2 linked regions of the Homo sapiens genome follow. The protein of the gene in region 2 purifies or fractionates together with the protein of the main gene of each other region. This does not show direct contact. Each region holds a gene or a part of one and is shown on either strand. Other genes may lie near its edges.

The links.
Region 1: the proteins of JPT2 (region 2) and FIGNL1 purify together in Homo sapiens (affinity purification with mass spectrometry; 2 studies listed by BioGRID and IntAct, with this or other methods). This does not show direct contact.

The regions. Positions count from the first base shown.
Region 1 is NC_000007.14:50,443,139-50,448,539, forward strand, and holds the end of FIGNL1 (fidgetin-like protein 1), read right to left. Parts: exon of another isoform or gene 5,152-5,401; 5' UTR 5,043-5,151; intron 4,918-5,042; exon of another isoform or gene 4,830-4,917; intron 4,160-4,829; 5' UTR 4,150-4,159; coding exon 2,125-4,149; 3' UTR 995-2,124; downstream 1-994. UniProt on the Homo sapiens protein: Involved in DNA double-strand break (DBS) repair via homologous recombination (HR). Recruited at DSB sites independently of BRCA2, RAD51 and RAD51 paralogs in a H2AX-dependent manner. May regulate osteoblast proliferation and differentiation.
Region 2 is NC_000016.10:1,673,918-1,682,961, reverse strand, and holds the start of JPT2 (jupiter microtubule associated homolog 2), read right to left. Parts: upstream 4,684-9,044; 5' UTR 4,650-4,683; coding exon 4,606-4,649; intron 2,600-4,605; exon of another isoform or gene 2,472-2,599; coding exon of another isoform or gene 2,464-2,471; intron 1-2,463. Other genes in the region: CRAMP1 (protein cramped-like), read right to left, coding at 8,917-9,044. UniProt on the Homo sapiens protein: Nicotinic acid adenine dinucleotide phosphate (NAADP) binding protein required for NAADP-evoked intracellular calcium release. Confers NAADP-sensitivity to the two pore channels (TPCs) complex.

The sequences.
Region 1 (5,401 bases), on a different chromosome or scaffold from region 2:
CAAATTTCAGAGCTAAATAAAACATTAACAGCTAGAGGGCAAATGCTGATAAATCTAAATAGCTAGACCCAAGAAGGTGGGAGTGATCTGCAATTAAACACCAAGAAAGAAAAACTAGAGAATTCCTTGACATCAATACCAAAGAAACCAAGTTTATAGTGCTGTTTATATAGAAATAGAAAGGGATAAAGACAGTAATGAATATTGTGGAATGTTTTAGGATGTTAAAAGATATAACTAAGAACTGAAGACAAGAAGTTTAACGTCCAAATTCTAATAAAAAAGGCCAGGCGTGGTGGCTCATGCCTGTAATCCCAACACTTCAGGAGGCTGAGGTGGGTGGATCGTTTGAGGCCAGGAGTTCGAGAGCAGCCTGGGCAACATGGTGAAACCCCATCTCGATTAAAAATACAAAAATTAGCTGGGTGTGGTGGTGCAAACCTGTGGTCTCAGCTACAAGGGAGACTGAGGCACAAGAATCACTGGAACCCAGGAGGCAGAGGTTGCAGTGAGCTGAGATCACACCACTGCACTCCAGCCTAGGCAACACAGCGAGACTGTTTCAAAATAACCAAAACAAAACAAAAAATGAATTCTAATGAAAGACAATCACATATTACAAAGGGAAAAACTAAAAATTGCAACAATCTTTTAACATAAAAACAGAAGGCAAACCAAGAATAAAAATTTAAACTATATACACAAACTGTCTAAATTCAACAACTAAAAGTGTTTCAATTTGTCATTTCAAATTGCACTGTTCACAAGAGAAAACATTAGAACTTAAATATAACCTCCACGAGACCAAGGATATTTGTGTTGTTCATTGCTCTACGTTCACTACCTTCAGTTTTTTGAATAAATGCAAAAAGAATGCCAACAAATACCAAAACTGCCTACTGCCCAATGCTGCCATAGCTCTGATTCAGTGCAGATGGAGTTTTACACAGGAACTACTTTTTCAAGAGGACAATTTAGAATGCAAGCCAAAAGCTTTAAAAAGTGCATATTCTTTAATCCAGGAATTACTCAAGAAATTTATACATTTTTTAAAAAGATCACCAAATGCATCCCACATAGTTCCTTTACAATAAACAAAAGATAAACAACCTAGCGTCCTGTCCTATATGCGCTCTACCAGATGACTCAATTATATTCCATCCATCCATGGAATCCTAGACAATCATAAAAGGACATTTATGTTAACATGGAAAGTGAAGATACGCTTTGAAGAATAGGCTACAAGAGAGAATACATTACACAATCCTACTGCTGTATAAAACAAAACATCTGGAAGAATCTATGCTTAAATATTAATAGTGTGTCCCGCAAAGTGGTAGGATAATAGTGACTTTTATTCTTTTTACTTATCTCTATTTTCTCATGTTTCTGTAATGAACATGTTTCATAAAACAAAATGGGTCTGTTATAAAAATCTGAAAACTTGTTTTTGAAAGAGAGCAGTATTACAGGCTGTAGTGTCAAATAAAATATTAATGTTAAATATCACACGCTCCCGTGAAAATAACCAACATTCTTAATTAACCTTTCAGTTCTGTGAATCTAATACTAGATCACACCTTGCTATTTCTGAAAATGTTAGTCCTGATAAAAATTAAAAACCATAAAAGAGGTAACAAATTGGCTGAAGAAAGTAAAAATTGGCACTTTAGCTTTGAGATCTTAAATCTACTTAAATAACACTAAGCAATACTTTGTCCAAATGTAAACCATTATACTAGCTGACATTAAGAATTATGTGGCCATCAGAAGGCACTTTCTTCAATAAAAGATGAATATTAATCAGACACAACTTTATATGTAATCTTCAACTAAAAAAAATTTGAGCTCACTTTTCATGTTATATAGCTTCAAGATAAAGACTTCTTAGAAACAAAAGTTCATTCTCACTTTGTTCAAATAGGCTTACGTATCAGGTAATCACTGGAAAGCAAAACTTACATTAACATACACTATGTCAATCAGATGTAAAATCTGTGCTATTATTTGAAGTACAGAACTTAGAATATATTCTTAAAAATACAATTAACACATCCCCAACTTTCTATGCTAAAAAATAAAGAAGACTGTACTACAGAGATGCCTTGATTCCAAGTATCCCACTTACTTTCCACAACCAAAAGTTTTGTTCCAGTTTTCATAAAGCTCTAAATCTTTTGGAGAAACACTAGGTCGCACAGTTCTAAAAGCATTTTCAAAATCAATGTAAGCTATGGGTCGAACTTGATCCGGTGTTATGGTAGCAATGTCAGCAGTTTGTAAACTGCGAATAGGACCAAGAGAAGCCTCCCTGCAAAGCTGTGTCATGTCTGCTCCTGAAAACGCATCAGACTGCTGTACAATCTGTTCAATTTCTTCTTCACTGAGGCAACACTGCTCTTTGGACATTAGATTAATTACTATCTGTTTCCTGGCTGAAGCTTCTGGGAGGGGAATATAAAGCCTTTTCACCAATCTTCTCCGGGCAGCCTCATCAATTTCTTGTGGCCGATTTGTTGCTCCCACCACTAGGATACGATCTTCAGAAGATGTTGTTGCTCCATCTAATTGAACTAAAAATTCTGTTTTTATCCTTCTAGAAGATTCATGCTCACCATCTCCCCGTTGAGATAACAAGGAATCAATTTCGTCAATAAATATCACAGCTGGTTGCTGACACCTTGCAACAGCAAACAATGCACGGACCATTTTCTCCCCCTCACCTACCCATTTAGAAGTTAAGGATGAAGCAGAGATGCTAAAGAATGTTGCCCCAGACTGACTAGCAATGCACTTGCCAATTAGAGTTTTACCAGTCCCAGGAGGACCAAAGAGCAAAATTCCTTTAGGGGGTCCCCTTAAACCAGTAAAGATGTCTGGCCTCAACATGGGCCACACAACTATTTCCTTTATGGTGGCTTTAGCAAATTCTACTCCTGCAATATCTTCCCAATTTACTGGAGGTCCATGATCCATAATCTCATTCATAATAAGTTCAATCATCTTTGGCTCCAAGTTCTTCAGACGCTCATCAACTGGATGTGCTGGTTCTGTAGGTCCTGCCCCATAAGGCTTACATTGCATTCCTCCATTCTGCTCTCCCCCATCTTGCTTGGGTATAGGAGGAACAAACTTTCCAAGTATCCCTCGGGATCTACTAGCTCCTAGAGACTTTTTTACACCACCATATGAAGACCCTGATGCACGCTGAGGTTGGTGGTACTTTTTTTGCTGATCTACCCATAATTGTTCTTTTGCAGTTTTAAATGTAGGCAGGCTGCTATCCTCCTTTGGGCCATTATCTTCTGTTTTACTACAAGCCTTATTCAGTATTGGATTGGAAAGTGCATCAATGGTGCCAGAACCATAAAAAGACTTCCTCTGTGGATTTTCACAGGCAGCAGGAAAACAAGACTGGTTAGATAAGAACACATTAAGTCCTATGTTTTCTTTTGCAGAGCTGTGATTTTCCTTTTTGACATTTCCAAACAATGGTGTGACATGGAATTTTGCAGTAGCTGACTCACCTACAGGTGCTGAGAATGTAGGACAAGTCCTAGCAGTGTTAGTCACCATAGGTGGCTGGGCATTCTGAAGGAGTTTCAAACGATTGCTCTCCGGGAAGTCTTGGGTCCGGTCTCGATCATGAGCTGAGTTAGGTAATGAGTCACTCTCTTGAGAACTACCACAAACACTAAATTTAGGAAGATCAAAGACAGTGGCCTCCTTATGGATTACCACTGATGCAAGAGCAGGTTCCAACAGAGAGTCTTTGAATTTTTTGCCAGCTTGCATCATCTTCTGTACACTACTCATTTTGAAAACATTATTTATTGACAATCCAGACTGCCACTTGTCACTATCTGTTTGTTGAGATCCTGCCAAAGTTAAAATGTTTTCTGCATAATTATTCAACCCAGATTCAACATTGTCAGAATCAATAATTGCAGAATATTTCTCTGCATATTTTTTGAACAGTTTGGTAGCACAGACCTGGGAAATCTCAGAGTTTGCCCATGCATACTGAATGCGTAATATCTGTGCACGGTATGCATCTGCCTTCGGTCCGGTACATATGCCAGATGTAATTGCGAAGTAATTCTTCTGCCATTCACTCAGGTGCACAGATCTAGAGCTGGAGGTCTGCATTTTAGAGGTTCTATAACAAACAATAAAAATGAAAATCAGTATGAAGGAAAACAAAGAAAATACTTTAAATGTAATTTTGAAACTTCTGCTAATCTGAAGGAAGGGACACTGGACTTTTTATTTATAATGTAGATTTATAAGGACAGGTTATAAGAGAAATATCTAGTTAACTATAGATTTCAAGTATTCAAGACATATCAATATGAAGTCTTCAAAATTAAGGACTTGATTAAATAATAATTTATATGAGTTAAATTGTTCTAGTTACATAATTTTATCTGTAGGGAAAGCATTCATAAGGTTTAAAATTAATTTTAAATTTTAAAAACAATGGAACTATAGATACATAAAGCAAAACAAAATAAACAAGAGGTTTAAGTCTGATCTATAAAACTAGGTGAATGAGCTTAAGTGAGCTTTTTACTATCACTGATGGTTTATTTTTATTTTATTATTATTTTTTTTTGAGACAGTGTCTCGCTCTGTCACCCAGGCTGCTGGAGGGCAGTGGCGCTCTCAGCTCACTGCAACCTCCACCTCGCGGGTTCAAGTGCTTCTCCTGCCCCAGCTTCCCAAGTAGCTGGGATTACAGGCACCTGCCACCACCCCTGGATAATTTTTATATTTTTAGTAGAGATGGGGTTTCGCCATGTTAGTCAGGCTGGTCTTGAACTCCTGACCTCAGGTAATCCACCCGCCTCAGCCTCCCAAAGTGCTGGGATTACAGGCGTGAGCTACCGCGCCCAGCTGGTTCTTCAGTTTTCTTATCTGCAAAGTGAGAGGAACCATTGGAAGAATCAAATCAAGCAATGACTATGAAAATAATCTGAAAACTATCATTATCCTTATCACACAAATGTACAAACCGAGGCTGAGAGACTTAAAGAACTTACTTGAGATCACACAGCCAGTTATGAATGGTATCAGAAATCGAACACAAGCAGTTTCACTCCAGGTACTGTGCACTTCTGCATGTACACAATGCTCCTTGATGCTGCTATCCTAGGTCACAGATTGAACAGCATGGATCACAAATTTAAACTATGGCATATTTAAATGGTTTTAATAACATTCATGAATAAGTTCATCACCCTAAACAGAATGCCCTAGAATATCTGTTTCCTAATTTCACATAATTATTAAAAAGTGAAACTGTTACAATAAATGAAATAAGAGAACAAGCTAGCCTACTAGGAAAATGCTTTTACTTTAGATTTCTTCTGTCAAGTTATTCGCATAAGCTTCCTCACAT
Region 2 (9,044 bases):
GTGTGGTGGTATGCGCCTGTTGTCCCAGTTATTCGGGAGGCTAAGGCTGGCTTGAGCCCAGGAGGTCAAAGCTGCAGTGAACCATGATTGCATCACTGTACACCAGCCTGGACGAAAGAGTGAGGACTTGTTTCACCAAAAGGAAAAAAAATAAAGGGTGGTGGGTGGGAGGGCGTGGCTTAACAAGATTTTAGGTGAGGTGCTCTTAGAGTGGCCATAAGGCCATCTGACTTCCATATCCATTTTTGAATCACGCAGCCCTCCTAATTCTACATTTTTTTTTTTTTTTGAGACGAAATCTCGCTCTTGTTGCCCAGGCCAGAGTGCAATGGCACAATCTCGGCTCACTGCAATCTCCACCTCCTGGGTTCAGGCGATTCTCCTGCCTCAGGCTCCTGAGTAGCTGGGATTACAGATGCCCGCCACCATGCCCAGCTAATTTTTCTATTTTTAGTAGAGACGGGGTTTCACCATGTTGGCCAGGCTGGTCTTGAACTTCTGACCTCAGGTGATCCGCCCACCTCAGCCTCCCAAAGTGCTGGGATTACAGGCATGAGCCACTGTGTCCGGCCTATTTTATTTTTTTGAGATGGAGTCTCACTCTGTTACCAGGCTGGAATACAGTGACGCGATCTCAGCTCACCGCAACCTCCACCTCCCAGGTTCAAGCAATTCTCCCGCCTCAGCCTTCCGAGTAGCTGGGATTACAGGTGTGCGTCACCGTGCTTGGCTATTTTTTTGTATTTTTAGTACAGACGGGGTTTCACCACGTCGGCCAGGCTGGTCTCAAACTCCTGACCTCAAGTGATCCGCCCGCCTCGGCCTCCCAAAGTGCTGGGATTACAGGCGTGAGCCACTGTGCCCAGCCAATTCTGCGATTTTTCTTGGATAGTGTAGCAGGTCTAAACATGCACGGGTCTCTACAGTTCTCTCTTTGGAAATAAGGGATGAAGGCCTGCAATCTTTCGAACTGAACTGAATTTATCAAGTCTTATGTGAGCTGAGCATGAGCTATAATTCCTTTTACTGACTTATTTCAAATATGGCTTTTCTCTCAAGCCCTCAAGGTGCTACAAACTGTCAGATCTGATTCCAGGTAGACTCGCCTTGACTGCAAGCTCTGTAGGACTCTTTCCCGACCCCACATTCCCTACATTCACAGTCTCCTGTCTCCTCTGCCTTTCACCCTTGCTTCAGTTCAACTTGCACATCTCTCGAGCACCTATCATTGGCAATCCTTCCCCAGACGCCGTAGATAGAGGAAAGCAAGTCCTTACCCCGGAGGAGCTTCAAGTTTAAACAGGAAAGCTAGAGCTCTGCACAGGTGGTTTCAGTGTCTGTGTGAGTGACGTGACAGACGCCTAGTGCCATCGGGACTCCAAAATTTGGAAGAGGTGAAACCCAAATTGAGTCTGTGGCCTCCATGTGGAATGGGGACCAATGGGCGCAGGAGGTGAGTGGTAGTTACTTGCAATGACCAGTGTTACTTTGGGGTGATGGAAACACAATATTTAATATTGTTCTATGTGCTTTTCTGAATTTTATTTGAAAACAAGCAAAGAAAAAAAAGTGGTACCAAAGACGGTTTTAGCAGAAATTATGGCGCACACAGGCCCAGCCCCAGGCAAGGGGCAGCGGCTATCTCGGTCACAAAGGCAACAGGTCCCACTGCAGGTTTCACACAGACCGCAGGGCTGGGCTGCCTCAAAGGGGTCTCGGATGAATGGAACTGAGCGTTCAATAGACCTTTCAACAAAAACAGCCCGACAACAATGGCGCAGTGTGGCTTTCTCTAGGCTACAGGCACTTACCACTATGACACTAATAGGGGGAGGGGGAACGCTAGAGCTCACACATTTGGGGACAAATTCACAATGTGAGTGGGGGGTGCTTCCCAATTATTTTTTGCCTTTTGTGGTACCCCTTCCATATATTTCAGTGAAGATATTCAAAACACACAAGAGAAACTCAAGCGCACAGGAGAAGAAAAACCTCACACAGCTGGAGTGGACTGCAGCACTGGAGAGGTAGGGAAAAGCTGTGTGACCCTCCTCGGGGGTCTCCATGCTCCTGACCCTCTCTAATAGTTTGTCCCCGAGTTTCAGAAAGGATGAGGGGACTGGTCAGGCTTAGAGAGAAGCAGTGAGAAATAAACTTGGATTAAATTCCTTACAAATAGAAATGTTCCAGCTTGAAGGAAGACCTCAGGTTAATCGCGGCTAAAGCATAACGCTTTTACGAAACCCCTTTAACACAAGACAATCCCTCAGCAAGGAAAGGAGAGATGTGAGGTCTCAGGAGAGGAAAACCTGGCTAGGTAATCTTACAGCCACCACCTGACTCGCTTCACAGCAAAACTAAATGTGACGCTTACAAGGCGCCCGCCCTGCGACTCGACCCCGTTCAGATGAGTGGCAAATGTGCAGCGTCTGGTGGACCCCAAGCAGAAGCTTCCAGTGATACCTCATCATCCAGTTCAGACCGGCTTTCCTTCCTCACCATCCTAAAAGGAAGAGTTTTCTCCCTTTCTCAACACCTTGTCCAGAAACCAGTCCCCCAGGGTAGTGTGAGTATGACTTTAGTGCGGCCCTGTGCAGCTAACTTCTGGAGCGTGAAAGTCAATATAAAAACATCGGCGTCGCTCAGGGTGATAATAAACACCATCATTTACCGGGCAGCCAGTGCCAGGCAGCACAAACAAAAAGGAAACGTACTAAATGCACACAACTGGGACAGGGCTGGGGATGCAGTCCCTCCCCCCACTGATGTGGGTGGTGCAAAACTCTGGCCACCAGGAACCAGAAACCGGATTCGCTCTGAGCACTAGTTTAAACTCCTGGTCCCACATCGGTGCAGACCTAGGCATAATAATCACTGTTCCATGGATGAAGGGCTGTTTCTTTGAGACGGAGTCTTGCTCTGTCATCCAGGCTGGAGTGCAGTGGTGTGATCTCGGCTCACTGCAAGCTCCGCCTCCCGGGTTCACACCATTCTCCTGCCTCAGCCTCTCAAGGAACTGGGACTACAGGCACCCGCCACCCCACACCCGGCTAATTTTTTCGTATTTTTAGTAGAGACGGGGTTTCACCGTGTTGGCCAGGATGGTCTCGATCTCCTGATCTCGTGGTCCACCTGCCTCGGCCTCCCCAAGTGCCGGGATTACAGCCGTTGAGTCACTGCACCCTGCCACGGGTAATTATTTGGTTACAAGTATTACTGAATACTGACCTAACTCCCTCAAATCTAAAGGGTTTTTTTTTTTTTTGAGACGGAGTCTTGCTCTGTCGTACAGGCTGGAGTGCAGTGGCATTATCTTGGCTCGCTGCCACCTCTGCCTCTGGGTTCAAGTGATTCTCCTGTCTCAGCCTCTCCAAGTAGCTGGGACTACAGGCACACACCACCACGCCTGGCTAATTTTTGCATTTTTAGTAGAGACGGGGGTTTCACCATGTTGGCCAGGCTGGTCTCGAACTCTTGACCTCACGTGACTCGCCCACCTCAGCCTCCCAAAGTGCCGTGATTACAGGTGTGAGCCACCACGCCCGGCCAATCTAAAGGGTTTTTATTTTTAGCAAGTTGGAGCAATTCTTTTACTTAGTATTTATTCAATATAGTATTTGTCTTCACTTGATCATAGCCAAAAGGCTGAGAAGCAATATAGTATTGGTCTTAACAGTCATGGCACACATATTCTCTTCTACTTCTCTGGCGAGGCTGTGCCACAGAGGGGCTCATCATACAGAAAACCTCAGGCATCTGAAGACCCAAACTTCACAATGCAAGTTTACTGCTCAAGTGGCACGAAAGACCTTGTAAGCTCTGTCCCTCTAATTCATGCGAGTCCCAATACCCAAAGAGTGCTTTAAAAGTTCAAAAACATAAGAAAAGTGTGCTCAGTGTTCCTGGCTATTAAAGCTGAGTCAGGATATCTTCGTCCCAATCCACTTCTTCCTACAGCGAAGCCCAGGAGCGCCATCCACCTTCCCAGGAGATAGAACTGACTCTTCCCCAGACGCCCTGGCACTTTCCAAAGGAAGTGGACTCACATGAACTAGTGGAAGCGCGGCCATGGGCAGGGCACAGGCCACACACACACCAGGGACACGGGCACACGGCCACACGCACAGGAGCGGGGGCATGGCCAGACACCCCCCACGAACACATCGCCGCACACCCCTTAGGGACACCCCCCCGGGAACATGGACACGCATCCCACAGACAAAATGGGCCGCACCCACGGGCACACCCCGCCCCCAGGAAACCCCCCACGGAACGCACCACACGGAACGCGGGCGCCCAGGCGCGAGGGAGCGCAGCCCGCCCTCCACACAGCTTTGTTCCCAGAGCCCGGGCGCCCCTCCCCGCCCTCGGCCTCGGTCGCGGGCAGCTCTCCACAGCCCGGGCCTCAGCGAGCGGCCCCTCGGGCTTCGGGCCTCGGTCTGGCGGCGGCGCAGAAAGGCGGGCGGCGGCCCCGAGGGCCTCTGTGAGGTCGCCCTGCCCCCCAACCCCACCCCAACCCCACACGGCTGGTGGACGCCCTGGGCTGGCCCGCTCCCGCCACGTGGTCGCGCTATCCGCCCGCCTCCCGTGTGCCCCGCGCCGCACCTGGAGCCGGCGCGGCCGCCCTCGCTATCCGGGACCTGGAACATGTCGACCGCCGCCACCCTCAGCTCGCCGCGCGCCGTTCCCGCCCGCCCAGCGCAGGTACTCAAGGCCGCCCGCCAGCGCCCATTGGGCGCCAAGACGCCAATCATCCCTCCGCAGCCTATCTCAGCGCGGCCACCGCCCCTCACGCCCACCCCCGACGACTTAGGCTTTGAACGGTCGGCGCCGCGCCCGCAGCCGATTGGGGAAGGCGACGCCGCTCGCGGAGGTGGGAGCTCGCATTGGGCGGCGGGCCGGGCGGGCCCTGGGACGGCCGCGCCCTCGGGAGGAAGCCCGGTCTGCGGGAGCCCGCGAGCCGACCGCGGGGCCGCACCTGGGCCGCACCTGCCCGACCAGGGACTGCGGGCATGGGCGCGCGGCCCTGAAGAACAGGCACAAACGACAGTCCTTAGATCAACATTAGTATGTATTTATGCACAATAAAAACATTTACAAGTTGAACTGGAAATTTAAACAGAAGTTTAACAGCTCTTATTATATTAAATAACCAAAACACCTTTTATTCCCAAAATTGGTAAAGAATAAATAATATAATTTACAATATGGTACAAAAAATAACCAGGAAAGGCAGGCATTCTGCTTTATACATACACTGTATATGCATATTTATAATCTATAAAACAAATTCATATCTGAAACGAGCGGAGGCCTCGCTATGGCTTAACCGAGTAAGAGAGAGAAGGGGAGCGGGGCGCGGGAGGCAGGGCCAGGGGCTGGGCTCCCCACACCTCACCCACCCCAAGGACACGCAGCCACTGTGACATCAGGAGAGCGCTGACAGCCGCGAAGGGTGTGCTGTGGGTTTTTTTCCTTCGTTGTAAATTACTCTTTCCTTGCTTTCTTTTTTTAACTTGAGACCCAGTTTCGCTCTTCTTGCCCAGGCTGGAGTGCACTGGCGCGATCTCGACTCACTGCAACCTCCGCCGCTGAGGTTCAAGTGATTCTCCTACCTCAAGTCTCCTCAGTAGCTGGGATTATGGGCATGCGCCACCACGCCCGGCTAATTCTGTACTTTTAGTAGAGACAGGGTCTCTCCATGTTAGTCAGGGTGGTCTCATACTCCCCACCTCAGGTGATCCGCCCGCCTCGGCCTCCCAAAGTGCTGGGATTACAGGCGTGAGCCACTGCGCCCGGCCTCCTTCCTTGTTTTCTTAAGACAAAGTGCTGTATTTCCTGACAAATGCATCGGCTAGAGCTCAAGGTTTAAAGAGAAAACACAACTGTCTTCCTCCTCCCTCATTCCCGGTGTCTTATGCCCCACAACTTTCTTTGCAGAAGAAATTTTGAATTCAATGCTGTGATCTAATTAAAGATGCTATTAAACTAAAAAGGTTATCCACCAGAAATGAGGCCACGGCCTCTCATGCCCAGAACCTGGAGGTGCGGCAAAGCAAGGAGGCCAACCGCGGAAACGCCGCCAACACCCCACTCCCTGAGCTGGCACCCTACAGCTACAAGACACAGAAGGACAAAACAGCCAGGAAGCCACGAACTAGGCATCCCCCGAGGCACGCAATGCCCGCTTATCACTGCACATCCACAACAGAATTGAGGCCAGAGGACTAACTTCCCTGGACCACAGATGCTCTGTCCCAATCTCCAGAAAAGACGAATCAACAGAAAGATCCCAGGCAACGTCAGAGGGATTCAGGAAAGCTTTTTCTAAGAAACTGATCTCATCTTAATTACAGCATGCTCAAATGCACAAAGGAAGCCACAGGCTCATACTTAGACGATCACCGCTTCTGTTGGAAAGGCAGAAGATGCAGGAAGTCTCTGTTTGGATCTTTTGAAAATTCCAGCCTTTAACAGTTGCCTATGTTTGCACATAAATATTCATTTAGGCCAGAAGAAAATGTATCCATTGTTTTTCTGCAACAAATGACACCATTTTCCCTTAATGTGGCAAGCAAATGCGTATCACCTGTCTAGTTACTAGAGAAGCAGAATCCTCTAGAACTCTTGTCAGCTTTATTACAGGAGAGGAGTCAGCCCGTCCTCCTCCCTAACCCATCTCCCCACTGGATGGCAATGGCTGCAGTTGGCTGCTCCCAGGAGTCTACGCTGGAGAACCAAGTGGTAGGTGCTGTCTAAAGAGCCTACGAAAGCAGACTCTGACCTCCAAAACTTCACCCCACTGAGTTGTCAGGGGCTAACAGGTACCCTGACAGGCAGTTCACAAACCCTCCTGTCCCTGGCACAGTGCACACAGCTCAGTGCTGTTGGGACTTGGCATCTCTGGTCTAGCCTGTGGGAGTATGAGAAAGCTAGCAGTGGCCTGAACTCGGCCTGGTATCCTAACCCTCTAGAGACGCAGCAAAGCCAGATGCCCAGAGGGAGATCTCCTTGTCTTCTCTGGCTCAATGAGATGCTAATTTTGGAAGCTGGTATACGTAGCACAAAACACAAGCTAGTGTAAAGATGCTGTAGTTCAAACACTGCTGTCTCTCTCCTAATCAAGTGGCATGTTTCTTTTTTCACCCCTAAGAGGTTTGGGACTGTTTGCTTAAGATCTCATGTCAATGTCTGAAGGAGGGAAGCCAGCTCAGGCAAGAGCTCTAAGAAAAACTCGTGAGACAAAAGAAGGAAGCTCTTGCCTGGAAGTTCACTGTCCTCTCCACGTCCTCCCAGTGGTGCAGTACACGGCCTGCCTGTGGTCTACAGTGGCTGTGGTGGGCTGGCAAGACTGCAGGACGGAGGGCGTCCACATGCTTGTCCACACCAAAGGCCTTTCCCTCCTCTTTTCACCTTCTCCATTGTGGATGGGGAGAGAAGCAGTGGAGGGGCCAGGGCTGGCCTTGAGGGCTGCAGCGTGCCACACATGTGGGGGAAGAGGAATGGTGGGGAGGAGGGAGAGTAGGTCCAAGGGGGTTAGGAAAGCACAATCAATCCCGGCTGCTGCGGGGGATGAAATGAGGCAGGAAGGGAGAGATGGCGGCACAGGCATGGCCTGCCCAACACCTCTGTAGCAGCTCCAGGCCACACTGGATGTGGATGGACGGTGACTCATGTGCCTGGAACTCCTGAGGATGAGAAGGCAAAGGGGCCCTTGTTAGCTCTGTCCTGGGGAAAGACTGGATGTTGGGCCGTCTGCAGTAGGAACGCTGGCCACCCAAGAGGGCGCAAGGAGGGAGACCACCACGAAGGCATATATTTGGTGAGGTCTGACCACATCCAGATGTCTGGGCCCTCACCTGGGTGTCCCAAATGGGAAGGAGACACAGAAGTCTCAAGGCAAAGGTATGCAAGGGACTGAACACGTATGTCAGGCACGCCCACACCAATGCCCGTGAGAGACACTTTCCCTGCAAAGGCAGGTTTGTCTCAAGTGCCAAACAGTCACACATCGAGTTTGAGAACTTATCAGGAAAGTCTTCGCTGTAATCATATTAGCGCCTAAGGGTCACCCCAGGAGGGAGAAATGACACCTTAGATCGCCTGGAAGCTTGCAAAGGGACACAGGAAGGAAACCAACTACAGAGGGGACTTTGTTCTTCCTCTTCCATGTCTCCTAATTCTTAAAACACAAGAAAAACATTTTCAACCAGCTTAGCAGGGTCCCATGTAAAGTCCACACAACCTGCATAGTACAGGACTCTTCCTGCCCCCACTCCCTGTTAAGAGTACGAACAAAACCTCTAGGGAGGGGAGGCACCAGCCCAGGGCCCCACGACTCCGCAGCAGCCCTGTGATCGGTATCCATGCTCTTGCTGCCTTGGGATGTGACACCACCAGGCATGAGCCCAGGCCACACCCAACTGTCCTGCCCGTTACAGTCCACAGAGGGCACAGCTGATGCATAGCACAGGTTTGGCAGAAAGCAAGCAGCAGGGGCTGGGGCCTCCCTGCAGAGAGGGAGATCACAGCTCCTAGTGCACAGCAACTACACCAAGGCACACATACTCCCTTGTCTCAGAAGGAAATGCCACCGGAATGTCCAACACAACAATCGAGGCAGAGCACAGGCTGAAATGGGATCATTATGCAGACCCTAACATGGGCCCAGGCGTGGTGAAGAACGGCTCTAGTACCACAGTGATTTCTAACGCTGGCCCTTGCCAAGAACTCATCCTAGTCTCCTTGGACGCCGTTGCCTGCTGCTCGTGGGGAAGCAGCTCTGTGACCACGTTCCTGCCCGTTGCACAGTCTTGGGTGCGGAGATGCCTCTGTTCAGACCATCTTCTGGGGCTGCTGGGCTTATCTATTTTTCTCTAGCTCGAAGAGGGCTTCATCCGCCACCAGGACGTGTGGTCACTGGGACAGGTCACTGACAGCGGGGCCGCCTCCACCACCATCAAACAGAGCTTCTCGGCGGCCAGGCTCAGCGATGGACAGCTCTTGGGCCAGGTCATTGAACCGAGAAATGTAATCAATGCTGT